Regions from separate parts of the Homo sapiens genome. Here region 2 is linked to region 1. The links come from fine-mapping of genetic effects on gene expression. A gene starts in region 1. The other region holds a variant in brackets. All regions are shown on one strand. Distances are between the middles of the regions.

Region 1 (13,563 bases):
ACGTGCTGACATGTTCACACACACACTCCCACACAGGCATCCATGTGCACACTTTTACACCACCCTGTAAACTCAGGAAAGACTTGGATTCCAGGGTGGGATGGGTCCTTGCCACTCATGGAGATAGTCTGCTGTATCTGAGCTATGTGACTTGGCCAGGTCTCTCTTCCTTTTTGAAGTTTAGCAAAGTTTCTCTTTAACCATCACCCCCACTGGTAGCCTCTACTTTCCTCCCTAATAACATCCTAACTCCTTAACCAACCCTCCCTGGTTATTGAAGGCTCCAAGTTCCCAAACTAACTTCCTTGTCCTCATTAGAAACTCCCTATCCCTCAGCCTCTGGGGAAATAGAACTTGTCCCTTAATTTATACGTATCTGTTTAGGGACAGGGTTAGAGAAAAATGATACGGGTTTTAAGAAGATGCTTGTTGATTCAAATGACTAGATTTCCAATAGTAGAATTCCTGATGAGGAGAGTAGAATGAGGGGTTGTAGCGGAGGAAGCTGAAGTTCTGTGATCACGCTGGGGCACGGGGCACTATCCCGTCCTGGGGCCCGGGCAGGAGGAGGGGGCCAACCCTTCAGCACTCTCAGGACCAGAACAACCTGTGACAGACACACAAAAGGTTCGGCAGCACTGGTTCCGAGGTCAGGGCCCATGTGGCTTCCCTTAGGGCTCATGTACATGCTGCTGAAGCACCTGGTAGACAGGTACAATCTCTACTACGCCTACCTGCCGGCCAAGCTGGACAAGAAGATCCACTCGGGGGCTGTGAACCAGGTGGTGGCCGCGCCCATCCTCTGCCTCTTCTGGCTGCTCTTCTTTTCCACCATGCGCACGGGTGAGGGATCCCTACCCAGGGAACGGGGGGTGGCGAGCAGAGTGGATTCCAGCCAGAGCAGGCCACAGGAGAAGCCGCATGGCTGGGGGTGGCAGGCAAGGGGCCTGGGAGAGGCTGGGGCCAGTCTGTAGCACCTGGGAGAGTGAGGACTGCATTCAGAGGGTATCAGAAGCTGGGGTGGGGAGGCCCACAGGAGATAGCAACCCCATTCTTTGCCCCCCAACACCAGGGTTCCTAGCTCCCACGTCTATGTTCACATTTGTGGTCCTGGTCATCACCATCGTCATCTGTCTCTGCCACGTCTGCTTTGGACACTTCAAATACCTCAGTGCCCACAACTACAAGGTGTGGGGCAAGGGTGGCAGGCGGATGGCTGCGGGCAGGAGCTCAAGGGGAGGAATGCAGAGGGCCACAGGGCTGGCGAGGGCTGAGGGCAGCGCCAACAGGGCCAAGCGGGCGTGGGGTCATGATCAGGGCTGAGGACATGCCCCCACTTCCTGACTCATTCTGGGCCCCTCAAGATTGAGCACACGGAGACAGATACTGTGGACCCCAGAAGCAATGGACGGCCCCCCACTGCTGCTGCTGTCCCCAAATCTGCGGTGAGTGCCCTCAAGGGTTGGGAGGGGCCTCTGACAGACTCAGCCTCAAAGCCCAGTGTTCCCTTAGTCCTGCAGAAAGGGGAACCTGTGCCAGACCCCATGGGGGCGGGAAGAGAGCTGGTCTCCCTGGAGGGCTGCCCCCGCCCCCCAGGGCCCTGCCCACTCTGCTGTCCTACATGCCCTGGTGTTCCCGCAATCCATGAGGGGCAGCTGTTCACCTTGCCCCCATTTCCTCTCCTCCTTCAGAAATACATCGCTCAGGTGCTGCAGGACTCAGAGGTGGACGGGGATGGGGATGGGGCTCCTGGGAGCTCAGGGGATGAGCCCCCATCATCCTCATCCCAAGATGAGGAGTTGCTGATGCCACCCGACGCCCTCACGGACACAGACTTCCAGTCTTGCGAGGACAGCCTCATAGAGAATGAGATTCACCAGTAAGGGGAGGGAGGGGCCCTGGAGGCCACATCCTGCCCCACCCCACCCCCACTCCCACGGACACTAAAACGCTAATAATTTATTAGATCTAAAGCCCCTTCCTCCCCAGCCCCTGCTTTCATTAAGGTATTTAAACTTGGGGGTTTCACTGCTCTCCCCCATGATGGAGGGAGGGAGCCCCCCAACCTCAGTGAGGAGAGCCCCGAGCCGGCCCCGGGGCAAAGAGGGGTGCAGAGGGAGTTCCCCCAGATCAGTACCCCCCACCCCTCCCCAGCTAGTAGCATGACCAGGAGAGGGTTAATGAGAGCCAAGAGGAGTACCTGGTGCACCTGGTGCCGGTGGCTGGAGACCTGGGGGGCAGGTGGATCTGGGGCTGTTCCCCCCCCTCCGTTTTTTCCACCCCACAGTTCCTCCTGGGATCTGGCCCTCCAGGGAAGTGGAGCCTCCAGCCCCTAGGGGATGCATGAGGGGGGAGGGGGTGCTGAGTGGGAGGAAGAGTCAGGCTCACAGCTGGGGTGGCCTGGGGGTGGGGGTGGGCAAGGCTGACACTGGAAAATGGGTTTTTGCACTGTTTTTTTTTTGGTTTTTTTGTTCTTTTTTGTTTTTTTCCTTTAAAATAAAAACAAAGAAAAGCTCTGAGGCAGGTGTCTGACTTGTGCTGCCCTGGGCACCTGGGCCGGGTCCCCACCCTCCTATCTGGAGGGCCTCTTTGAGGTCCCTGCATGACGCTGGGCAAGGGACTTGTTCAGAGTCTCATTTCTGTGTCACTGAGAGGAGAGAGTGGGGCTGGGGAGAGACTTAAGGGATATCTCAGAGGCAGGAAGGGCCCCTGTGCCCAGGTGGCCACCATACCAGCCTCGCCCACTCTGATCATTCCCCTGAGTCCCTGAGCAACACACATGGGACAGAGATTCAGGGAGAAAAGGTCGTGCAAAGCCACAGGGTCCATGCTGGGCCAGGACGAAGGCCCTTCTGAGCACCTCAAAGTAAGCCTGGCGCCAGCCCATCTGTCCCTTCCCCAGGAGGGCCTGATCTCCTCAATGAGAAGCCCCCTCCCACCCTCCAGTCAAATCTTACCCATTCTCCAAGACCCAGCTCAAATTCACCTTCTCGCCAGGCGCGGTGGCTCACGCCTGTAATCCCAGTACTTTGGGAGGCCAAGGTGGGTGGATCACTTGAGTTCAGGAGTTCGAGACCAGCCTGGCCAACATGATGAAACCCCATCTCTACAAAAAATACAGAAATTAGCTGGGCATGGTGGTGCACCCCTGTAATCCCAGCTACTTGGGAGGCTGAGGCATGAGAATCACTTGAACCTGGGAGGTGGAGGCTGCAGTGAGCTGAGATCATGCCACTGCACTCCAGCCTGGGCGACAGGGCAAGACCCTGTCTCAAAAAAAAACAAAAAAAAATCACCTCGAAAAAAGGTCCTGTGACTGCTGTAGCCCACCCTGCAAAGGCCCACAGAGCCATGTGGTGCACACCCACACACATGCACACACAGCATGTACTGCATGTACTGTAGGAGGCCTGCATTCCAGTCCTTATTCTGTCACTAAATCACTTTGCAACCCTGAAGAAAAGGAAGAAAAAGGAACTCTTAGAGGGAAGAAAAGAGACCTCAGAGGAGGAGGAGAACCAGGTTCCACAAAAGTCAACAGGAACCACCAACAGCAGGAACAGCAAACACAGCAAGCCTGATAAAGATTGCCCAGGCGCCAGCAAGGAGCAGGAGCAAAGAGCGCCCAAGGTCCAGCCCCAGGCTGCAGGGAGCTGCGGCAAACACAGCTTGGAGGGTCAGTGTTTATGGGCGGGCTGTGGGTGGAGGATGGGCCAGTGACAGTGGAGGTGAAAGTTGAGGCCTTGGTCCTGGCCTCAGCCTGCATATGTATGTCAGATCTGCAGTTGTGAAACATGAGCTCCCAGGTAGAGTCCCCAAAGTCTTGGGGCCAAGGGAGTGCCTGCTGGTGGTTGGACAAATATTGGCATGGCTTTGAAAGGAGCACCTTGGTTGTGTGAAGGCTTCTCGGTGCTCCCGAAGCCTGTTTTCCGTATGGATGGGCAGGCACACCACCGCCATTTGCCTGGCAAGCCCCCTTGTCTGCAAAGCATGGCCTGGACAGACCTCAGCCCCCACCTCTGGTTAGCCGAGACCCTCTCATTCCTCATCTGCCCAGCATGCCTTCCCTTTCCTGCAGGGCCTGAAGTTCAAAGCCAGGTTCCAGCATTTCCAAATGTGAAACTCCAGATAATGCCCAAGCAGCACACTGAGCAAGAGTCCTGAGGACAGCCCTCCCCCAGGGTGGGAGGCTGTAATAGAGAGGAACACCCGTGCCTGCCTGCACCCTACCCCTGGCACCTCGTCACAGAGTTCATGTCCAGGCAGATCACATTAGAGGCATCCAAGAGGTGCAATAGTGGAATCAGGAGTGGGCAGGGGAGACCACAGGATCCCCAAAGACCACTTCCTCCTTTCACAGCTGGGGGCAGCAGAAGATACGGATAAGAGCTAAAGTTATGGCCGGGCACGGTGGCTTATGCCTATAATCCTAGCGCTTTGGGAGGCCGAAGCGAGTGATCACCTGAGGTCAGGAGTTCGAGACCAGCCTGCCCAACATGGCGAAACCCCGTCTCTACTAAAAATACAAAAATTAGCTGGGCATGGTGGTGGGCACCTGTAATCCCAGCTACTTGAGAGGCTGAGGCAGGAGAATCGCTTGAACCCGGGGGGCAGAGGTTGCAGTGAGCTGAGATTGCACCACTTCACTCCAGCCTGGGCAAAAGAGCGAGACTCCATCTCAAAAAAAAAAAAAAAAAAAAAAATCTGAAGTTATTAGTTTAAATCCTGGCTCGACCGCTTAACAGCTGTGTGACCCTGGGCAAGTTGCATCATACCTCTAGACCTCACTTTCCTCATCTATAAAATGGGAATAGCAATGTCATGGCCTCTGGCTGTTTTAAGGATTAAATAAGTAGGAAGTTCTTAGCCCAGTGTTTGGCACATAATAACAAACCATAATTAATATTCTCGTAGATGAGGAGATTGAGTCCCAGAAAGGAGAAAGGGGGAGGGCTCGCCCAAGGTCAGCTCCTGTTTCAGAGCTTGGAACAAGGTTCTCTGATCCCATTGGGTGCTCTCACACCTGTTCTGTGCCTGATTAGCACCAGGCAGGGCTGAGGGGCACTGGGATGACCTTGACAGTCCCTGTCCTCAGCCATCATACACTCCAGAGAAGACTGCACTCTGGAGCAGAGTTCTTAGCTCAAAGCATTCCCACTTTCCAGTGCAGAGGCAGGACATGTGGTCAGACCAGTGGCCTAACCTTGCCAGACTGGGGCTAGGCAAGGAGAGTGTTGCAGGTGGAATCGTGTCCCCCAAAAAGGCATGTTGAAGTCCTGGCCCCCAGTACTTCAGAATGTGACCTCATTTGGAAACAGGGTGGTTGCAGATGTAATTCGTTCAATTAAGATGAGGTCATACTGAAATGCATGGGACCCTAGCCCCATATGACTGGTGTCCTTATAAGAAGAAGAGACACAGAGGAGGGTGCCATGTGAAGACAGCAACACAGGAAAAATGCCATGTCAGTGAGAAAGGGGCTTTTGGGAATGAGAAGGCTTTCTGGATGTAAAGGTCAGGTTGGTGTGTCAGGGACAACCCCTTCCTGGAAACCTTGGGCTGAAAAAAAGGGACTGGGACCTACCCTGATGGGATGACCGTGATACAGTGAGGACAGCCAGGCTGGTGGAGGCTGTGCAAGGCAGGGGTGCTGGGTCATCTGTCCCTAAAGCGGGTAGCCCTCAGCTGGGTAAGGGGCTGGGTTACTGAGAAGGAGAAAAGGGAAGGCAGCTGTTAAACCGGCTGCTGACCTAGGAATCCCACTGCAATGAGAGAGTTCTGGGGGGAGGGTCTCTTCTCCCCCTCCCACCAGAACCTTCAACTGTCAAGCACCGAGCTAGCCACCAGCATGCTGTACTCCCCAGGTAGGCACTCATGGGGCCTTGCCCCACTCCTGTACCTCCTGCAGGCTAGAGCCTCCCCCCAGGGGAGGAGCTGTGTCCCGCATCAGACTGGGTGCCCCTTGAGGGTACAGAGAGTGACTCTTCCATCAGACTGGATGCCCCTTGAGGGTACAGAGAGTGACTCTTCCATCAGACTGGATGCTCCCTAAGGACAGGACCTGGGCCTCGTTCTCAGACTGTTTGGGGAAGGATAGGCCACTGGTGGTCAGACTGGGTGGTAGGCCGGGCAGGAACTCTTTCTCCTCTCCACTGACAGTTGGAGTTGGGGAGAGGAGAGGGGCCGGCCATCCCACTGTCATGGCTGCTGGGGAAAAGGGTTTGTGTGAAAAAGCCCACGTAGAGAAGAAAACTTTAGGGAACAGAGAGAACCTCTCCTAAGCCTAGAAAAGCAGGTCCCTCAGCCCAGGAAGATGAGATCCTCAGGGTGGCAGGGGCAGGACTACCTGAGGCAAGCCTGGGACCAGACTCCAGGAGATGGGGGAGAGTGGGCTGGGGGGAAGGGGAGGGCTGGGCAGAACTGAGTTGTTCCTGTGGGGCTAGGGTGCACAGAGGGCAGCCAGCCTTGGCCAGCAGAAGGTCAGCCCTGTACCTCACCCTCAGCCTGGGGCACCGTGAGACCATGGGCCCCTAGACCCAGCCTCCCAGCTTCTCAGGCCCTCCCTGTTTACCTGACCCTAGGAAGTTTAGGCCTAGCTGGTGACCCCAAACCCAGTCCTTGTTCTTCAGAAGTGCCCTGAGCCCAGGAGTTCAAGACCAGCCTGGTCAGCATAGCAAGACCTCATCTCAAAATATAATTTATTTATTTATTATTATTACTTATTAGTATTTATTTTTTTTTAAAGTTCCCTGACACAACATCTTAGTTTTTTCCCAGTGCCGGAAATCAAACTGTCCTTAAATCTATAGTCCCCTAATAACAATGTATTGCATTTAGAAAATCACTGAGAGAGGCCAGGCACAGTGGTTCACGCCTGTAATCCTAGCACTCTGGGAGGCCAAGGCAGGTGGATCATCTGAGGTCAGGAGTTCGAGACCAGCCTGGCCAACATAGTGAAACCGTGTCTCTACTAAAATACAAAAATTAGCCATGCGTGGTGGCGGGCGCCTGTAATCCCAGCTACTCGGGAGGCTGAGGCAGGAGAATCTCTTGAACCCAGCAAGTGGAGGTTGCAGTGAGCCGAGATCGTGCCACCGCACCCCAAGCCTGGGCGACACAGCGAGACTCCATCTCAAAAAAAAAAGAAAATCACTGACAGTAGATTTTAAGTGTTCTCACCACAAACAAATAACAAGTATGTGCAGTAATGCAGATATTAATTAGCTCAACTGAGCCATTCCACAGTGAATACATATTTCAAAACACCATGTCGTATACAACAGATATATACTTTTTTTGTCAATAAAATAAAACTGATTTAGTTAAAAACGATCTGGCCGGGCGCAGTGGCTCACGCCTGTAATCCCAGCACTTTGGGAGGCCGTGGCGGGCAGATCACGAAGTCAGGAGATCGGGACCATCTTGGCTAACGCGGTGAAACCCTGTCTCTACTAAAAATACAAAAAATAAGCCAGGCGTGGTGGCGGGCGCCTGTAGTCCCAGCTACTCGGGAGGCTGAGGCAGGAGAATAGCGTGAACCCAGAAGGTGGAGCTTGCAGTGAGCCAAGATCGCTCCACTGCACTCCAGCCTGGGCGACAGAGTGAGACTCCGCCTCAAAAAAAACCTCAAAAAACAACAACAACAACAACAACAAAATGATCTGTAGGTTCTCAGTCTGATGGAGGAGACAGGATGTGCAGCTGCAGCAGAAAGCTTCCTGTCCATTCATGCCTTTTAACATGCAGCAGCCCCTGCTTTCCACGCAGTTTCAGTTACCCGCTGTCAACTGCAGTCTGAAAACATCAGGATATTTTGAGACAGAGAGACCACATTCACATTACTGTTATTGTATTGTTGTATTTGTTATATTTTATTACTTATTATGGTTAACTGCTTACTGTGCCTAATTTATAAACTAAACTTTATCATAGGTATGTACATAAAGGAAAGACATAGTATTGATATATACAGGGTTTGGTACCACCCGCAGTTTCAGGTGTCCACTGGGGGTGTTGGAACGTACCCCTAGGGTTAAGGGGAGCTACTGTGTTGCTCTGGCCATCTGTCTGTGCTTCCCACAGGCAGCCTTGGTCTGTCTGTCTCAGCCTTCTCACGCTCCTAGCCCATGTGACAGCTTGGATCTTTTGCCCTCTCTAAGGGGATATTTTCTTTTGGGTTTTTTTTTTTTTTGGTGTTTTTGTTTGTTTGTTTGTTTTGAGGTGGAGTCTCACTCTATTGCCCAGGCTGGAGTGCAGTGGCCCAACCTTGGCTCACTGCAACCTCCACCTCCCGGGTTCAAGCGATTCTCCTGCCTCAGCCTCCTGAATAGCTGGGACTACAGGCATGTGCTACCACACCCAACTCATTTTTGTGTTCTTAGTAGAGACGGGGTTTCACCATGTTGGCCAGGCGGGTCTTGAACTCCTGACTTCAGGTGATCCGCCCACCTCAGCCTCTCAAAGTGCTGGGATTACAGGCGTGAGCCACAGTGCCCAACTTAAAGACATTTTCCATGACAACTGTGGTGGTGTGGATAGGTGTGTCAGTCCTTCCTGCAAGTCAGAGCTGAGTAATGACCTCACACCCTGGGGACTGGGTATGCAGCTTCGAAGCAGGGTTTGGGGGCCAGACAGTGAGAAATGACTTGTTGGGCTGGATGGTGACTAGGGGACAGAGGGCTCTGGGGAAATGAGACAAGGGAGTTAAGATGGAACCTGAATTGCCTTGGCCTGCCCTCTGATGTTCTTTCAGTCTTCTCAAACAACAGCATCTTCCCTGGTCCTTCCAGGCCCCCAGGAGAGCTCAACACCCTCAGTCCTCGGAGCAGCCAGGGTAGAGGCTGCCTGGAGTGACTGCACGGTGCAAGGGCATGGAGTGGTTTGCCTTATCGTGTGAATGACCTTAGATGATTCGCTCAACCCAGGTTTGTCAACCCCAGCTCTCTTGACATTTTGAACTGGAAAATTCTTTATTGTGGAGACTTTCCTCTACACTGAGGGGCGCCCAGCAGCATCCCTGGCCTCTACTTACTAGATGCCAGTAGCTCCCCTGAGACCTGCCCCAGTTATGACAACCAACACTGCCTCTAGACGTTGCCACCTGTTCCCTGGGGGCCGTAATCACCCCGGGTTGAGAACTTCTGACTCAATCTCTCTGTGGAGGCCCTGGCTTCCACCCAGCTCAGATGGGAATAGTCATCCTGATCCGCCAGCTTCACAGATAGGGATCAGGGGCTGAAACAGAAGGTGTTCAGCTCTCCCCTCTCAGGACTGCTTTCCACCCTTCCCTCGGAACCCTCTTCATCTGAAAGGGGCTCCACTGTTTAACCCCGCCCCCGCAGCCCCCCTCACAGTCTCTTTGAATAAAGACACACACACACACACACACACACACACACACACACACACACCTGTAATCATAGCCCGAGGGGGTGAGGGAGCTTCCATTACCATTTCTAAGATAATCCCAGAGGGCTTGGGTTAGAAGAGACAGGGTTTGAGGAAAATGGAGGGAGAAAAGAGCGAGGAGAACTCCCAGACTCTGGCTCTACCCACCCTCTTCCCTGCTTCCCAGCCCTGATGCTTCCAGAACCAGGACGTCAAAGTGCACCCCACCCTCAGGGGAATGGGATGTGCTTAGAATAGGGAAAGGGGGATAGTCATTCCCCCACAGAACCTCCCTGATGATCCCATCAACCTGGTGGCCCCTTTTCATGGCACTTTCTCCTGTCTTTGCGGCCCATGGAGCTGAACCTGGGGGAGGAATCGCATGGGAGGGTCTTCTCCACGCTCCATGTTGGGGGTGCATTCACTTTGACCCCTCAGTACCAGCCCAGAATAAATTCTCCATAAAACATGCCTAACACGAGTTAGGGTTTGCTCTCAGGAGCTCAAACCAGTGGCAAAGACAGACAAGCACACACATGACTCCAATATTGGAGTAATATCACTAGTATCATTAAATCCTATGATGGAGGGACACATATGTGACACAGAGCATGGGCCATGTGATCCTAGAAGGAGCTCAACAAATACCAGTTGACCAACTAGGTCAGTGGGGAGAAGGTGAGTAACGTTTTCTGAGCACCTGCTAAACTCCAGTCTTTTTCACACGTTGCATTCTTCAATCCTGAAACACCCTCGCAGGTAGAATGCAGCAGCCTCTATACACAGGTGAGGAAACCAAGGCTCAGGGAGGTCAAACAACTTGCCCAAGGTCACACAGCTAATTCTCTGGCTCCAGTGCAGCCCAGGGCATTAGCTCTGCTAAAAAGGGACAAGCCACCCCTTTTCCAACACCTTTATCCATCCTCAACACCCCCTGTCAGCTGCTCCACACAGGGGAAGTGACTTCACAAAGACCACACACAAGTTGCAGTACAATGGACGAAGGGGCCGCACCAAGGCCAGTTGACTCACTCATCCCTCTCCAGCACAGCCATGGCTCCTCACCATGGCGACCTCCCAGCAAGGCAGCGAGCCTGATGGCTGAGAGCATAGAGCAGCCTGCCCTGACTCTAATGCCCACCGAGTCTGAGGAATTTCAGCCTCTCTCTGCCTCAGTTTCTCTGTCTATAGCAGGGAAGTTATAAGAGTAAGCCTAACCAGTGGGGTTGTTGGGATGATTCAATCAGCTAATGCACATCGGGTGTTTAGAATAGTGCCAGACATGTAGTGAGCCCTCAAACGCTGCTAACTATTATTATTTTTAGAAATGCTATATAAGTGCTCACTACTCATAACTGAGGCAGGATTCCTAATATCTTCTCATCACAAGTTACAGGCTCTGTGGAGAAGCAAAATTCAGGATCCTGAGTCTCCTCAACCTTATTATTTTTTGTTTGTTTGTTTTTGAGATGGGGGGTCTCACTTTGTCACCCAGGCTAGAGTGCAGTGGAAGGATTATGGCTCACTGCAGCTTCCAATTCCCAGCCTGAAGTGATCCTCCCACCTCAGCCTCCCAAGGAGCTGGGACCACAGGCACATGCTACCATGCCCAGTTAATTTTTTTTAATTTTTATTTTGTAGACACAGGGGTCTCACCATGTTCCCCTTGCTGGTCTCGTGAGGCTGAGGAGGGAGGATTGCTTGAGCTCAGGAGTTTGAGGTTGCAGTGAGCCATAACTGTGCCACTGCACTGCAGCCTGGGGAACAGGGTGAGACTCTGTCTCAAAAAAGTGTATCTATGTTGAACACTTACTATGTACTCAATACAGCAGCAGGAATACAGCAGCAAACAAAACAGACAAAAATCCCTGCCCTCACAGGCTTTCACTCATGAGGGAGGTAAACAATAAACAAAATATATAGTATATTGGGGTTGCTGCAGGATAGGGAGTAGGGGAGGGGTGGAAGAGAGAAAACATCTATGAACAATTAACCACAATACCAAGCAAGGCATCTGTTCATTCATTGCAAGCATTATTGAGCCAGCATTTTGAAACTCAGTAGTATACAAGGTGGCCTCACCCTCTCCTCTTGAGAGCTCACAGCCTCACAGAGGAGGCAGACAGGTCAACTCAGGGAAGGCAGGTAGTGATGGGTGTCCTAACAAAAGTGTAGGATGCTAGCGCAGCCCCAAGTTCTGCGCGGACACCACAGGGGAGGCTTCACAGAGGAGGCAGCATCAAGCAGGCACTGGGAGGCTGAACAGGACTTTTCCCCGGTGGACCCAGTGTGAGCATGGGATCAGGAATGATTGCAGGCAGAGGCACAAGGATGGGAAGAGGAATGAGGGTAACCTGTGCAGAAAGTCGTGGGGCCAGATGGCAGGTGGAAGCCTGGTTTGGGTTTGTCATGCTAACAAGGGAGAGACATCTAAAGTACTGGGGAGGGGGAGCGGTATGTATAATCAGGTTTGCATTTTATTTTATGTTATGTTTTATTTATTTATTTATTTATTTTTGAGACACAGTCTTACTCTCTGCCACCCAGGCTGGGGTGCAGTGGTGCTCTCTCAACTCACTGCAACCTCCACCTCCCAGGTTCAAGCCACCTCCTGCCTCAGCCACAGGAGTAGCTGGGACCACAGGTGTGCACCACCACACCTGGCTAATTTTTGTATTTTTAGTAGACACGAGGTTTCACCATGTTGGCCAGGCTGGTCTTGAACTCCTAGCCTTAAGTGATCCACCTGCCTCAGCCTCCAAAAGTGCTGAGATTACAGAGGTGAGCCACCATGCTGCCCCAGGTTTGCATTTTCAAAATCTCAGCTAACACTGTGGAGAACTAGTGGGGGAGGAGGATGTTAGAAGAAAGGGGCCAGTTGGGGAATCATTCTTTTGGCCTAGATTTTTGCTATTTAAGGTTAATTTATTGAGTGAGTTTTGTGTCAGAAACAAATGCAAACACTTTAGAATATCACCCATCTCACAGGTGGAGAAGCCAAGGCATGGGGAGATAAAGTGATGTTTTGGGAGGCCTCCCTGTGAGGGGATGCTTGGCTTCCAGTCCTTGCTTACTGCACTGGATGTGGCTCTGCACAGGGGCAGCCCCTATCGCGGGCTGTGTGGAGGAGGACAGGAGAGATGCTAAGAGGGTGCAGTAGACAATGCAAGGGACATAGTGACAGGGTCTGGGAAGATCCCCAGCTCACTGGCTAGGTGGAGGGAAGGGGAGGATGAGGTTGAGGAGACTGCTGGAGGGACTGTCTCTCCTGGGGCACAGAGCTCAGGAAAGCTGCTTGGACAGACAGGGTCTCCCCAAGTCTGGAACACTCAAGAGGGGTCAAAGGGATGGGTCTGTACTGGGAGTAGTGGGCCCAGGGCTGGAGGGGGCTCTGGGGGCTGGCCTTATCCTGCTGGCAAAGCGATGTCCTGAAAGTTTCCAGAAGCAGTAAAGGGTTCAAAACCTCACTCAAAGGGAGTTGGTGTGGTATGTGGTCGGGGGAGCATATGTGATGAATTGGAGAGGGTCTTCAGGAGACAAGAGGCCATTTGAGGTCTGGGGGTTGTCTGAAGGCCCTGGCCTCGGACAGTGATGGTAGCAATGAGAAATTAGGGTCCTAGGAGGGGATGCCCTTGTGAAGGACTCCATGACTGTTTTGATGTGGGATGCGGTGTGTTGGGATCTTGGGGGACCAGGAGAACAGGGGTTCATTATAGGACCTGAGGAAATCCCAAGGAGGTACTCGTGTGGAACAGGAGAAGGGGTTTGCTTGGGGCAGTGGCAAGAGGAAGGGGGATAAGTTCAGCAATGAATCATCTGTCGATGCCTTTGTTAACAGAGATGGGGCAGGTTCTGCCAGCCTTCAGGCTGAGGAGAAACACTTCCCTTCAGGAGGCTCAGCATAGAGTGAAGGTTGCTAGCTTGGTCCAGGGTCTGCAGTACGGATTTCACCCCGCGCCCAACCCTCACTCTGTGACCTCGGGCAAGCTGCTTAGCCTCTGGGCCTCTGCTCCCTTTCCCAGTAATCAGGGTATTGCAGGTACCCCCTTGTAGGGCTGGCGTGCCTGGCACAGAGAAGGTGCTCAGTGCTGTCAGCTCTGCTGTTATAACTAGTCTCTTGATTCTGTCACTCAGGGGAGGAGGACTAACTGAGACCTCCTGCTCTTGCTTCTGGGG
Region 2 (15,803 bases), 26 kb after region 1:
ACTACTAATGCCTTTAAGGAAGCGGAAGGAGCCTGCGGGCCAGAGACATGAAGTCACTTGCCCAAGCTCACACATCCAAGGGTCAGAGGCCAAGCCTGTGTCCTGATTCCCAGGCGCTCTGAGACTTCTCCACACGCCCCGCCCGACAATCCATCCCCCTTGTCTGCCCCACCAGCAGTACTCACTCCAGGAGCCAAGAGAAAGCCCTGATAAGCATTTCCCAAGCCAAACCATGCTTTGCAAAATTCTCCACATTCTCCAAAAGAATGTTGTTCATTCACTTGCATTCCCTTATATAAGCAAGTATTTATGGAGCATCTACTGTGTGCCAGGCCCCTGTCCAGTCTCCAGGGGTTCAATAGTGAGCAAAACAGACACAAGCCTTGCCCTACTCTTAGGGCCATTAGTCCACCAGGCTAACAGACTGGTGCCTCAGGATAACATTTTTGCTGGGGGAGGTGGCTCATGCCTATTATCCCAGCACTTTGAGAGGCCGAGGTGGGAGGATCACTTGGAGGATGCCCAAAGAATTTAACACCAGCCTGGGCAACACAGCAAGACCCTGTCTCGATTAAAAAAAAAAAAAAAAAAAAAAATTAGCCGGGCATGGTGGCACACACCTGTGGTCCCAGCTACTCGAGAAGCTGAGGTGAGAGGATCACTTGAGCTCAGGAGGTCGAAGCTGCGGCAAGCCATGATCGCACCACTGCTCTTCAGCCTGGGCGCAGAGTGAGACCCTGTCTCAAAGACATCTTCAAGGTTAAAAAAGCTCAGGAAAGACTACTGCAGCCTGAGCTCTCCGGTGCACACAAGCACACTGAGGTGCTGATAAGCCACCTCTGCAATAGAGCAACCTGTTTAACTTGGTTTAACTCACATTTTTACAAACTTATTTGTCCTCGATCCTCAATTTTAGTAATCTTCTATTCACTTCCTGCAGGATATGAGTGTTCCACGGAAAAGCAAAACACTGTCCTAGATTTTTATCCTAACTCTTTCACTTTTCAGCCATCTGAGGTTGGACAAATCACCTCACATCTTTGGGATTCTGTTTCCTTCCCTTAACCTGGAATGATAAAAATCTACCTTGCATAAACTGTACTTTCCTATCCAAAGCTGAAGGAATTTTTTTTTTTTTTTTGAGACAGGGTCTCACTCTATTGCCCAGGCTGGAGGGCAGTGACATGATCGTGACTCACTGCAGCCTTGACCTCCAGCTCAAGCAATCCTCCCACCTCTGCAGCAGAGGGATTGTTAATGCCAGGACCTTTGAACTGTCAGAGCCCGTGCCCCACTCCACCACCAGTATCCCAGTGCCCTTAATACCCCTCCAACAACACACACACACAGACACACACTATACACATCCCACTTGGCTTCTGAAGGCCTGAGGCCCTTCACCACCCTAGAGATCTGACTCTCCTCTTTCTTCCCTTCCCAGGTCCCAAAAGAGGTACAGAAGATAAAGATGTGGGGCTTGTTCCTGGACACATACCCACTCCACCCCTGGCTGCAAGTGGATTGGCAAAGGGTGGAATTTGGCGAGAGGCTCTGGGGGTCACTGGGTTAGGATTCCAGCCCTCTTCAGGGCTGGTAGGGGTCGGGAAAGGAAGAGACCCTGTTGGAGTTGCGGGCCACTTAGATGGTGTCCAGGCCAGGTCAGTTGGTGGTGGCACCTACCTCCAACCCTGCCCGGCCAGGCTGTTCACCCTGGGGGACCCTCCCTCCCTAACCTCCCATGCCAGTCCTGTACCCACTTCCAGGATGCATATAGTTTCAGAACATTCAGGATGTCCACTTGAAGAAGGAATTCTTCACGAAGTATCAGGACCACGGCTTCTCAGAGATCTTCACCAACTCACGGGAGGTGAGCAGCCAACTCCGGCTGCCTCCGGGGGAATATATCATTATTCCCTCCACCTTTGAGCCACACAGAGATGCTGACTTCCTGCTTCGGGTCTTCACCGAGAAGCACAGCGAGTCATGGTAAGGGGCTGCAGCTCACTGCTCCAAGGCCCGCCACCCAAGAGCTGCAGGATATCAAGCTCAGGGAGCTGCTGTCGGGTCCTCCCTCACTTTGTCCCTATTTTACAGTCAGGGAAACTGAGGCATGAGAAGGTGAAGTCCCAGTTAGTGGCAGAACCAGAACTAGAACTAGAACCCATATTCCATGGAGCTGCCCTATATTGCTTCAAAGACATGACATGACCCCCAGAGCACCCCACTAAAACCCCCACCTCCCTCCCCCTGGTAACTCTTGAGCTTTCAATCATTTTGCCCAGGGAATTGGATGAAGTCAACTATGCTGAGCAACTCCAAGAGGTGAGGGGAGACTGTAGGGCTGGGGGTTGGAAGGAAGCTCCTGGGCCTGTGAAAGAAGTTTTCTGACCAGGTCCCTTTCCTGCTCCCCGGCCCCCAGGAAAAGGTCTCTGAGGATGACATGGACCAGGACTTCCTACATTTGTTTAAGATAGTGGCAGGAGAGGTGAGCAGGCCACGAGCGGAGGGCTGACAGGAGGGGGATGAGGGGCTGGAGGGGCCCGAGTGGGGTTCACAGTTCCCCTTCCTAGGGCAAGGAGATAGGGGTGTATGAGCTCCAGAGGCTGCTCAACAGGATGGCCATCAAATGTGAGTCTTCCACTCCTGCTGCACACGACCCCTCCCCCATATTTTGTGCCCCTCTTGATCACTCCCAGTGCCCCCACGATACCTCATTTACCCTGTCTCTCCTTTCTACCCCTTCCCTTCCTCACAGTCAAAAGCTTCAAGACCAAGGGCTTTGGCCTGGATGCTTGCCGCTGCATGATCAACCTCATGGATGTATCCTCCTGTCCAGTGCTCTCTTGGCCCTGTCCCCTGCCCACAAGCCTGGCCCAGAGATGGCCACCCTGGGCCAGCCACGTCCTCCTCCCTGATGGGGATTAGGCTCTGGGGTAGCAGAAGATGCCAGTTCTTCTGGCTGCTACAGTACCGGAACCCCAGGGCTTGTGTGTCCCCTCAGGAACCCCCGCTGCTTCCCTATCCCCTGGGATGCCTTCTTCACTCCTTCTCTGCTGTCCTTGACCACCTTCCAGAAAGATGGCTCTGGCAAGCTGGGGCTTCTAGAGTTCAAGATCCTGTGGAAAAAACTCAAGAAATGGATGGTAAAGGGCACTAAAGGGGCAGCCTCCAGGGGTGAGGAAAAGAGGGTCTTAGGAGAGATGGAACTAATGAGGGGAAGCTAGAACCCAAGCCCTAACCACACACACACACACACCCAACCACACCACACTCACACACACACACACACACTCACATACAGACACAACCACACCACACACACACACACACACTCACATACAGACACAACCACACCACACTCACACACACACACACTCACATACAGACACAACCACACCACACATACACACTCACATACAGACACAACCACACCACACTCACACACACACATACACACTCACATACAGACACAACCACACCACACTCACACACACATACTCACATACAGACACAACCACACCACACTCACACACACACACACTCACAGACACAACCACACCACACTCACACACACACATACACACTCACATACAGACACAACCACACCACACACACACATACACACTCACATACAGACACAACCACACCACACACACACACACTCACATACAGACACAACCACACCACACACACACATACACACTCACATACAGACACAACCACACCACACTCACACACACATACACACTCACATACAGACACAACCACACCACACTCACACACACACATACACACTCACATACAGACACAACCACACCACACTCACACACACACATACACACTCACATACAGACACAACCACACCACACACACACATACAGACACAACCACACCACACACACACACACATACACACTCACATACAGACACAACCACACCACACACACACACACATACACACTCACATACAGACACAACCACACCACACTCACACACACATACACACTCACATACAGACACAACCACACCACACTCACACACACACATACACACTCACATACAGACACAACCACACCACACACACACACACATACAGACACAACCACACCACACACACACACACACACACACACACTCACATACAGACACAACCACACCACACACACACATGAAAAGGGTCTGTTGGAGTGTGGCATATTACCCAGTCAAAATATTTTATAACAAGTATAGCTCAGGTATCATCTAGTCATGAAGGATGCACACAAAGAGCGCTGGGCAGGGCACCAGTGCCCCCGACAACCCATGCTTGGAATTAACCCTTAGGTCACCAGATGATAGGAATATCAGGAGTGGGCCAGGGTTGGAGGGGGGCATGGGGTCTTAGGCCACTGCTGTGAGCCAACTGTCCTAAAGTATTTCTTTTTCTTTTTTTTGAGACGGAATCTCACTCTGTTGCCCAGGCTGGAGTGCAGTGGTGCGATCTCTGCTTACTGTAACCTCCGCCTCCTGCCTCAGCCTCCTGACTAGCTGGGATTACAGGCATGCACCACCACACCCAGCTAATTTTTGTAGTTTTATTAGAGACGGGGTTTCGTCATGTTGGCCAGGCTGGTCTCAAACTCCTGACCTCAGATGATCCGCCTGCCTCGGCCTTTCAAAGTGCTGGGATTACAGGCATGAGCCACCGCGCCCGGCCTCAGTATTTCATTATTTCAACCACCATGCCATGCATGTGGCCCTACCATATCTGTCTGTCTCTTCAGGACATCTTCAGAGAGTGTGACCAGGACCATTCAGGCACCTTGAACTCCTATGAGATGCGCCTGGTTATTGAGAAAGCAGGTGGCCAAGGGTCAGGAGTGGGCCTTGGGGCAGGGAAGAGGATGGCAGTGTCCAGAGGCCCAGACTTTTCCCCTCCCCACTTCTCTCTCCCTCTCTCAGGCATCAAGCTGAACAACAAGGTAATGCAGGTCCTGGTGGCCAGGTATGCAGATGATGACCTGATCATAGACTTTGACAGCTTCATCAGCTGTTTCCTGAGGCTAAAGACCATGTTCAGTGAGTTAGGCATCTACCCACTCCCCAGCCTAGGCCAGGGGCCGCGGGCCCTTTCCCAAACACCCACCCTGATGGGTGCTGCTCCAGATCCCCTCCCCCTTACAAGGCACACATGAAATGGATTCAAAGCCCAGCTCCGCCACTTGCTGGCAGAGGTGACTTGAGCAAGTCACTTAATCTTTCTGTGCCTCCATTCCCTCCTCTTTAGAATGTGGATAATAATAGTACTGCCCTCAAAGGACTGAGGTGCAGGTTAAACCAGTTAGTCTATGGAAGGCAATCAGAACTGGGCCTGGCTCCTGGTGAGGCTATGTGAGTTGCTATCATTAATTCCCCACTTGGCTAGGGGATTTATGTGGGGAACAGCCAGGAACACCTGGTGTCGCCCCTTCCTACCTAGTTGGGAGTGGTTCTTTCGGAACACTGACTTAGCATTCAGCCCCTCTCCCCCGCTTCCTCTGTAACGCAGCATTCTTTCTAACCATGGACCCCAAGAATACTGGCCATATTTGCTTGAGCCTGGAACAGGTACTTGGAGAAGGGTGGGAAGGAATCTGCAGGATTGCACCTGCCTGCCCCTCAACCCCACCCCCACCCAGCTCTGATGTCCCCGGGCCAGCATCCTGCCCCCGTCTCTTCCCACCCTGGGATCTGCTTCCTGTCTCCACAGTGGCTGCAGATGACCATGTGGGGATAGAGGCGCTGTAGGAGCCTGGTCATCTCTACCAGCAGCAGCAGCAGCGAGGTTCTAGCCCAGGAGGGTGGGGTGCTTCTTGTAGCCCTCAGCTCTCCGGTCTCTGCTGATGAAATGGGCTCCAGGTGGCAGTGCCCGGGTCCCAGGTGCCGTGTTTACTGCAGCAGTGGGACCTCCGTGCCCACTCCCCCAGCTCAGAGGCTTTCTCTTTTTTCCCCAACCCGGCTTCTGATGGCTGGCTTTCCCCCACCATCGCTCTCTCAGAGTATATTTTACTAAAGAGTAGTTGATGCTTCCCCAGGGTCCCCCTGGCTGGGGAGGCCAAGAATAGGGAAGGGACTTGTAGCCCGTTTCTTACCCTCCATGCTTGCTGTCCTGCTCACACCTACCTGCTGACCACCCATCCTGGCACAGCCTCTGTTTTCCTCCCCATCTGTGGATACTATTCTAATAAATAGCACATGCCATTGGCTTCCATGTCTCTGTGTTTTTATGCCAAGAAAAGACTGGCAAGGGTGGAAGTCACTTACCCAGGACCAAAGGATTGGGTAGCTCTCAGCCAAGGGTGATAGGGAGCATATAGAAATGTGCAGTTGTCACAATAACTAGAGGCCATAGTTGGCGTTTATGGGCAGTGCCAGATGCTAAGCACACAAGTCCCTCCCTGTGAAGAACTGTGTGGTGTGCCCTATGGTGGAGCGCTTCTACGGGGGCTGAGCCAGGGCTCCAGGACTCTCATCTGCTGCTTCAAACTGGGGTCCCCAAAGGTGGCACTGCAGGAGCCTCGAAGGTTAAAAATCTGACACCTGCAGCCAGCAGGTCACATAAATGAACGAACTGCCGGGCGCGGTGGCTCACGCCTGTAATCCCAGCACTCTGGGAGGCCAACGCAGGTGGATCACCTGAGGTCAGGAGTTTGAGACCACCCTGGCCAACATGGCAAAACTCCGTCTCTGCTAAAAATACAAAACTTAGCTGGCCGTAGTGGCACGCGCCTATAATCCCAGCTACTTGGGAGGCTGAGGCAGGAGAACTGCTTGAACCTGGGGGGTGGAGGTTGCAGTGAGACAAGATCATACCACTTCACTCCAGCCTGGGTGACAGAGCAAGACTCTGTCTCAAAAACAA[T/A]TTAAATAAATAAATGAACAAATCCTCCTCGTGTGGGACTGGGAAGGCTGAGGACTGTGGCAATAGGTGAACTCGTTCCTGCCTTAAAGGTGTTCAGATTCAAATCATTATTATTATTGTTAGAAATTTGTTGCCTGTCCACTTACTAAAACCTCCCTTAACTATCCTCCACCTTATCCAGAGAAGCTTCTTCTTTTAGAAAATCAAGCAAAGCAACTAAGTCAAGACATGTTAAAAAAAAAAAAAGTATGAAAAGAAAGCTGTAAGGAAATACAAGGGGAGGGATTGTTAGATATGAGTTCTAAATTTCTTTTCAAAGAATTAATATGTCAGTATGTTCAATTCTTTGCCTTCTATTTTTAAACTTCACTTCCTCGTAAAGCAACCTTTTCAATTACCTATTCCACCCTGACTCATTCCGATCACCTGCTCCACCCTAATTTATTCCAATCACCTGCTACCTGCTCTGCCCTGACTCCCACCAAAGCACTCACCCTGTCAGTCTCTTTAAATTAGTCAATCAGAATTAGTTTAGCCTGTGCGGTCTAACCCTAGCCAATAGGGGAACGACACAGCAGCAGGGGCCACGTGCATCAGGGATAAGAACCCCTTCCCCTCCCTTGTCCAAATGTGTGCTCACCATTGTTCCATCTATAAGGGCGCACGCTTCTATATAGAAGTAACTTGCCTTGCTGAGAATTAAAAAGAAAATTAAAAAAAAAAAAGAAATTTGTTGCTTGTCAAGCTACTGTCCTTGCAGGAGGCATGGAAGAAACACTTATTTCTGGGTCCACCTGTTTTTGACCTCGGGGTCTCTGTCCCAGGTGCCCACACCCCAACTCCAGCCCCAGCCCCCTGCAGTAGTGAGAACACCCAGGCCACTCACAGCAGCCCCTAAACTGTACTTCTCCTCCTGTCCTTCCAGAGCCCTCCACAGCCTCCCCTTCTGGTTTCTGGCAGGGACACTGGAGCCCAAGCACATGCGCTTCTCAGCCTCTCAGGTAGAGACAGCACCCCCAACTTCCCCTAGATTAGAGATCTGTCATCCCCAATGAAGCTAAACCCTTCCTGTCTCTGTGTACCTGTGCAGCTTCCTGGGGTCGCTAGCTTCCTTCCACGTGCACTAAACCCAGCCCTTGTGTGCTTAGTGAGGCAGGTGGGATTCTGATCTTCCTTAATCTGGTGACTGATTGTCTGCACCAGCCCTGGCCCCTGCCTTCTTTGTGACTTCAAAGACTAAAGCTAGTCTGCCTGGATATAAAGCCGCCTTCCCTCCATTATCACCACCCCACGCCGCCTTCAGAGGAATCGTTTCCTGTCCTGTCAGCCCTCCCTGCTTCCTCTCCGTCTCCAGTCCTGCCTGAAAGAATAGGTCACACTCTCTTTGGAGCCTCTTTGAAAGACTGTTCTCCCACTTGTCGTCCTCCCTCTCTCTCTAAGAGATGGCAGCCACCACCTGCTCTCCACAGAGCTTCTCTGAGTGATGAGCAAAAGTCCCCAGAGAGAGCAGGGAGAGGTCAGTGAGAGCCTCAAGCTAACAGGTCCATGCTGGGCATGGTGGCACATGCCTGTAATCCCAGCTACTCGGGAGGCTGAGGAGTTTGAGACCAGCCTGGGCAACACGGGGACTCCATCTTTTAAAAACAAAAACCTAGCAGGTCCTTTGAGACTCTGAGAGGTCCCGGGCAGTCCGGATTGGTTCTGGGAACCCTAGGAAGATGCTGACCCCACCTCTTGTTCCATGGCCTAGGGTGAAATGCTGCCAACTTCAAGCCAGGATGGAAAGGAAGCAGAAAACTCTCAAATCAGGACTATCCCTTCCGGTTTGTAACAAAGCTGGTTACTCACGAACACTCTGTAAACATAAAATGAAGCAAACTTCACATAAGTAGAGAGTTTATTTGGGCTAAACTTAAGGATTGTAACCCTGGAGAATAGATTCAAATTATTCTGAATATACATCCCGATTAGCAGCAGTTACAAGTGGATTTTTAGGCTGGGTACAGTGGCTCACACCTATAACCCCAGCACTTTGTGAGGCTGAGGTGGGCAGATCACTTGAGGCCAGAAATTCAAGACCAGCCTGGCCAACATGGTGAAACCCCATCTCTACTAAAAATACAAAAAATAGCCAGGCGTGGTGGCACACGGCTGTAGTCACAGCTACTCGGGAGGCTGAGGCATAAGAATCGCTTGAACCCGGGAGGCGGAGGTTGCAGTGAGCTGAGATTGTGCCACTGCACTCCAGCCTGGGTGACAGAGTGAGACTATCTCAAAAAAAGAAAAGAAAAAGTTAGCCAGGACTGGTGGCGCACACATGTGGTCCCAGCTGTGTGGGGAGCTGAAGTGGGAGGATCACTTGAGTCCAGGAGGTCGAGGCTGCAGTGAAATGTGATCATGCCAATGCACTCCTGCCTGGGTGACGGAGCGAGGCCTTGTCTCAAAAAACAAAAAGGTTTTTGTTTTGTTTTGTTTTGGGGTGTGTGTGTGTGTGTGTGTGTGTGTGTGTCAGGGCCTCTCTTTGTCACCCGGCTGGAGTGCAGTGGCACAGTTTTGGCTTACTATAACCTCTGCCTCCCGGGCTCAGGTGATCCTCCTGCCTCAGCCTCCTGAGTAGCTGGGACTACAGGTGCACATCACCATGCATGGCTAATTTTTGTATTTTTAGTAGACACAGGGTTTCACCATGTTGGCCAGGTTAGCCTCAAACTACTGACCTCAAGTAATCTGCCCCACCGCCCACCCCCCCGAGCCTCCCAAAGTGCTGAGATTAAAGTCATGAGCCACTGTGCCCGGCCCAAAATGCATTTTTAAAGGTAAAAAAGGGCTGGGCATAGTGGCTCACGCCTGTAATCCCAGCACCTTGGGAGGCCGAGGCAGGCCGATCACGAGGTCAGGAGTTCTAACCTGCCCAACATGGCGAAACCCCGTCTCTACTAAAAATACAAAAAATTAGCCAGGTGTGGTGGTGGGCACCTGTAATCCCAGCTACTTGGGAGGCTGAGGCAGGAGAATTGCTTGAACCCGGGAGATGGAGGTTGCAGTGAGCCAAGATTGCGCCATTGTACTCCAGCCAGGGTGAGAGCGTGAGACTCCGTCTCAAAAAACAAAAAAGAAAAGAAAAGAAAGGTAAAAAAGGAGGACAGTGAGTGGAATGATACAAAGTTATTTGTTAGGAATTCTCACCGGTTTTCAGAAATAACATTGATTAGTTATTGGCTATAGTGTCTGGTGTCCCATTATTAGGATAATTTATAGCTACCTGTAGAAGTAGCAAGCAGTTTCAAGAGATGAATACATAACTTAAAGGGGAGTGCAGGGTATAGGGTGCAATTGTGTGTCATGTTACTGTCTCTCTGGGTCTGATAATTAAAAGGATTTGCATTCCTCAGATAAAAGTTATTTTTATTTTATTTATTTTTATTTTTTTGAGACAGAGTCTCTCTCTGTCGCCCAGGCTGGAGTTCAGTGGCGCGATCTCAGCTCACTGCAACCTCCGCCTCCCAGGTTCAAGCGATTCCCAGGCCTCAGTCTCCCAAGAAGCTGGATTACAGGCACCTGCCACCTCACCAAATAAAAGTTATTTTCTTTTCCCAACAATTTGCATAGTGGCTTAAGGTGAAGATTCACGAGCTATGTGTCTTTGGGCAAATTATTTTACCTTTCTAACAGAGTATCCTTTTGAATCTGTCAATTAGAGGTGACAATTCCTATCTCAGAGGGCTGTTGTATGGACAACTGCGATAATGAAAGTGAAGCACTTAGGCATATCATTCTTTTTTAAAAAAACTTTGATATTATCTATAATAGTAAAAAAATAAAAAAAACAAATTTTCAATTGTGAACATGTTATAGCCAGGAGTGGTGTGGGTCATGCCTATAGTCCTAGTTACTCGGGAGGCTGAGGCAGGAAAATTGCTTGAGCCCAGGAGTTCAAGGCTGCAGAGAACTCTGATCAAACCACTGCATTCCAGCCTGGGCAACAGAGGGAGATTCTGTCTCAAAAATAAATAAATAAATACACATTAGATGTTACACACGATAAAATATCAAGCCATTGAACTAAATAACACAAATGGCATGAGGGTTATGACATACAGTTGAATAAGCAAGATGCATATTAGATTTACAATAGTCCTTGACATTAGTGTTTACCATTTGCTTGCATTAAATATTATTAGCAATGGCTATATACAATGTTATTTAAAATTTGGAAAATGAGGCACACCATTCTTCTAGTCCCTTCAGGCTCCATTTCCATCCAACTTCACTGCAACTCCATCCCAGCTCAGCCTTAGTGCCCTGGGAGGCCATTCCCACTATGTCCTTGCTGTCTCCAAGGGACCTGTAACCACAGGCAGGCAGCCCATACTTTCTAGTCCCTTTTAGTCCTCTGCTCATAAAACCAGGTGGCTGAGTTTTGCTGGGAATGGGCACTAAACCATGCTGCCTGCATCCTCCTGATTCATGCTGGTTGACCTCGATGGAGGCCACGTGGCAAGCTAGATTTCTTCTCCTGATGACTGACTGCCATTCTCCACACCCACTGCCCTGATTTCCCCCAGACCTCTCACTACAGCCTTCATTTTTACTGCAAAGAATGAGGCTACATCAGAGAAACAGCCTCAACCCCACTTCTCTTCTCCCTCAGAATATCTTCGCAGCTTCATCCTCTGGTCTCTGAGAAAATTGGGTCCCAAATGTGCTTGAAAACCATGGAATGCCATGCAACAGAAGCAGCAGACTAGATGCCACCCAGCCACAGCTGTAGAGCCTGAGAAGATGCTGAGTGAAGAAAAAGTAAAGCAGGATGAGCTCATTAGCTTCTTTTGTTTTTTTGTGGTTGCTTTTTGTTTGTTTTGTTTAGGTACAGGGTCTCCCTCTGTCGCCCAGGCTGCAGTGCAGTGGTACAATCATGGCTCACTGCAGCCTTGAACTCCTGGGCTCAGGTGATCTTTCTGCCTCACTCTGCCATGTAGCTGGGACTATGGGTGCACGCCAACATGGCCAGCTTTTTTTTTTTTTTAATTTTTTGTAAAGACAGTCTCACTGTGTTGCCCAGGCTGGTCTCGAACTCCTGGGCTCAAATGATCTTCTTGCCTTGACCTCCCGAAGTATTGAGATTACAGGCATGAGCAACTGTGCCTAGCCCAATAGCTAGCTTATTTTTAAAAGCAATTTTAAAATATATATCTTGGAGATATTTTTCTATTAGTATATAGAGAGCTTCCTTTTTTTTTTTTTTTTTTGAGTTGGAGTTTTGCTCTTGTTGCCCAGGCTGGAGTGCAATGGCGCCATCTCGGTTCACTGCAACCTCCACCTCCCGGGTTCAAGCGATTATCCTGCCTCAGCCTCCCGAGTAGCTGGGATTACAGGCACCCGCCACCATGCCCGGCTAATTTTTTATATTTTTGGTAGAGACGGGGTTTCACCATGCTGGCCAGGAATGGTCTTGAACTCCTGACCTCAAGTGATCTGCTCGCCTCGGCCTCCCAAAGTGCTAGGATTACAGGCATAAGCCACCGTGCCTGGCCGAGATCTTCCTTATTTTTTTTATAGCTGTATAGTATTGCACTGGATTAAAGTCTCGTTATTTAGCAGTTCTTTGTTGACAGTTTTTTCCAATCTTTCATTATTATAAATAGTGCTGCAATAAATAACACTATACATGTTATTTTATCCCAGTAAAATATTTTTATACAATAAATTTCTAAAAGTAGGATTATTGGGCTAAAGAGTATGTATATCAGTAATTCTGAAAAAAAGGAAATTCCCCTCTATAAGGGTAATACTAATTTGTACTCCCACAAGCAAGATAAGAGACTGCCGTTTTCCCCTACAGACTCATAAACACCGTGTGTGGGCAAGTTTTTACATATTTCTAATCTGGTAGAAGAAAAATGGTATCTCAGCATAGCCATAATTTGCATTTCTCTTACAGCAAATGAGATTGAGCAACTGTTCATTTTTTGCTTTTGCTTGCATTTTATTTTCTATGAACTATCTCTTTATATTCTTTGGGAACATATATGTTATATATATGAAATATATGTTATATATAACATGGTATATATGTTACATATATATGTGTATATATAACATATGTTATATATTAAATACATATATTATATGTAACATATATGTTATATATATGTTCCCAAAGAATATAGAGTTACATATTTTATATATATATATATACATTTTTTTTTAAAGGTCTCACTATGTTGCCAGGCTGGAGTATGGCAGCTATTTACAGGGGGGATCATCAGGCACTATAGCCTGGAACGCCTGGGCTCAAGTGATCCTCCTGCCTGAGCCTCTTGTCCTTGCCCATTTTTGTACTGGACATTTTTTTTCTTTTTCTTTTTCTTTTTCTTTTTCGAGACAAAGTTTTGCTCCTGTTGCCCAAGCTGGAGTGCAATAGTGTGATCTAGGCTCACTGCAACCTCTGCCTCCCATGTTCAAGCGATTCTCCTGCCTCAGCCTCCCAAGTAGCTGGGATTACAGGTGCCCACCACCACGCCTGGCTGGCTTTTATATTTTTAGTAGAGATGGGGTTTCACCACCTTGGCCAGCCTGGTCTCGAACTCCTGACCTCAGGTGATCAGCTCCCCCCAGCCTCCCAAAGTGCTGGGATTACAGGCGTGAGCCACTGTGCGCAGCCCGTTTTTGTTTTTTCTTATAATTTTTTTTTTTTTGAGACAGAGTCTCACTCTGTCTCCTAGGCTGGAATGTAGTTGCGGGATCTTGGCTCACTGCAGCCTTTGTCTCCTGGGTTCAAGCGATTCTCCTATCTCAGCCTCCCGAGTAGCTGGTATTACAGGCACGTGCCACCATGCCCGGCTAATTTTTGCATTTTTTAGTAGAGACAGGGTTTCTCCATGTTGGCCAGGCTGGTCTTGAACTCCTGACCTCAGGTGATCTGCCCACCTCAGCCTCCCAAAGTGCTGGGATTACAGGTGTGAGCCACCGCACCCGGCCTCTTCTTGCTCTTTATCAGTGCCTCTGTGTGTGTGCGCGCTTGCGTGTGTGTGTGTGTGTGTGTGTGTGTTTATTTACAAAGTAATTTCAAAATAATTGTCTTAAACTGACTCCATCCCTGTGGGAGTCTGTAACTGCACTTTCCTACCTGTTGGACAGCTCTCTGGGCTTATTCTGTCTTCCAAGGAAGGTGAGTGAGGTGCTGACGTGGGAATCTCCAAGTTCCCATCCTGCTCATCCCCACAACAGCTTCATTCTCTCCTTGACCCCCCTTCCCCCACCCACTTTTCTCTTGCCCCCCATCCACTCCCTCCAGAGACGTCAAACGCTAGGTTTCACAGGGCTTCAGAATCCTGTTGGGAACCTGGATCATCACCTCATCCACCAAAAGGGTCCTGGTTTCCCTGTTTCTGTAAGTGACACAGCCAGGAAGGACGTCCAGGACTCGCCTGAGCATTGTGGCTGGCTGACGCCTCAGGTCCGCTAAGCATTTCCTGAATTCACCCCACTGTCTGGCTCCCGTCTGCTCCTATTCTTCCTCACCTGAACCCTAACCCCCTCCCTACAGCATGGATAGAGGGGCTGTTTGTCACATTCTACCCATTCTTCATTCCCAGGACACCCCCTCTTTTCTTCTTGGAAGCCCTCCTCTCTCTCTGGCCACTCCTCCAGGCCTCGGGTTAAAGCTCCACCCTCCAGGAAGCCAGCTCTCACTTTTCACACATTGGCCAAGTGTCCTGGACTCCTAAGGTGCAGGCCATTTCTTTTTCTGTCTTGTAATTTCCTGTTTCCTCCTGCCTCTCCTACTGACCATATCTTGAGAGCAGGACTGTCTTTTTCTCTGATGTACTTCGAGAGCCTGCACAAGAGTGTGTTGACTAAAGCAACCAATGGCGGTCCCAGCTAACGTGACCGCTTCCTATTTTGAACTTCAAAGCTCTCCATCCAGGATGCCTCTTAAGGGCCAAAGTGCCCCAGCTGGAATTGGAACCCTCCCAGGTCTGATGCACAAACTTTTTTACCTTGACTGTCTTCCTACCACCCTTTTCTGTCACCGAGGCCCTCTCTGAACTTCAGTTTACTCATCTGTCAAGGAAGAGAACACTCAGGGGAAAATTATAAGGGCCAATTGAACCATATACTTGTAAATAATAATAGGATAAATGAATATGAGCTCTGGGATATAACAAAGAGTGCTACTAGTCATTGAATATTTACATTGTTATGTTTTCTTTTTCTTTTTTTTTCCATATAGAGTCTCGCTCTGTCACCCAGGCTGGGTGTAATCCCAAAGTGCTGGGATTACAGGTGTGAGCCACTGCACCTGACATGTTTTCTATACCAGGTACCATTCTAACATTCAACCTGTATTATGCCCTTAATCCTAACAAATTGGCTCCATTTCACAGAAAAGTGAACTGAGGCACAGAATGGCTAATGACTTATTTGCCTAAGATTCCACACTGGCAGTAGAGGAGCTGGGATTTGCACGTGGGCAGCATAGCTCCACAGTCCATTTGCTTAACTATCACCCCATATTGTCTTTCTATGAAATAATACTATTCCTATTATTTGGTCTCAGAGCTGCCCTCTCCACCTAAAATGAATCCAATCACACAGCCGCTCTCTTCTAGCATGATTCTAACTCTAACAGTAATTTCTGGCCAGGCGCGGTGACTCATGCCTGTAATCCCAGCACTTTGGGAGGCCAAGGCTGGTGGATCACCTGAGGTCAGGAGTTCGAGACTGGTCTGGCCAAAACATGGTGAAAACCTGTCTCTACTAAAAATACAAAGTTAGCCGGGCGTGGTGGCACACACCTGTAATCCCAGCTACTCGGAAGGCTGAGGCAAGAGAATCACTTGAACCCAGGAGGCAGAGGCTGCCGTGAACTGAGATCGTGCCCTTGCACTCCAGCCTGGGAGACAAGAGCAAAACTCCG

Evidence for each region. PIP is the estimated chance that this variant, and not a neighbour inherited with it, causes the effect.
Region 2: its variant is fine-mapped to the expression of CAPN11 in sun-exposed skin (GTEx, PIP 0.98). The same link has a PIP of 0.9 or more in whole blood.

The regions. Positions count from the first base shown.
Region 1 is chr6:44,153,001-44,166,563 of GRCh38, forward strand. CAPN11 (calpain 11) reads left to right here and starts at 5,820. Exons shown (of 23, transcript NM_007058.4): 1 at 5,820-5,864. The coding sequence starts at 5,849. TMEM63B (transmembrane protein 63B) reads left to right here. Exons shown (of 24, transcript NM_018426.3): 21 at 676-843; 22 at 1,073-1,188; 23 at 1,365-1,445; 24 at 1,692-2,519. The coding sequence ends at 1,883. LOC107986599 (a long non-coding RNA gene) reads right to left here and starts at 5,603. Exons shown (of 3, transcript XR_002956350.2): 1 at 5,585-5,603; 2 at 2,201-2,332; 3 at 838-977. RefSeq lists an enhancer at 6,997-7,166 and a silencer at 8,550-8,639.
Region 2 is chr6:44,178,178-44,193,980 of GRCh38, forward strand. It overlaps CAPN11 (calpain 11), which reads left to right. Exons shown (of 23, transcript NM_007058.4): 13 at 1,442-1,453; 14 at 1,775-1,986; 15 at 2,283-2,322; 16 at 2,420-2,485; 17 at 2,571-2,628; 18 at 2,756-2,820; 19 at 3,075-3,143; 20 at 4,764-4,842; 21 at 4,942-5,058; 22 at 5,528-5,586; 23 at 5,729-6,224. The coding sequence ends at 5,755. It overlaps LOC105375072 (a long non-coding RNA gene), which reads left to right and starts at 7,806. Exons shown (of 3, transcript XR_926835.2): 1 at 7,806-7,881; 2 at 8,631-8,703; 3 at 11,532-11,764. It also overlaps a transcript of MYMX not described here. The variant T/A (reference allele first, on the strand shown) is at 6,881.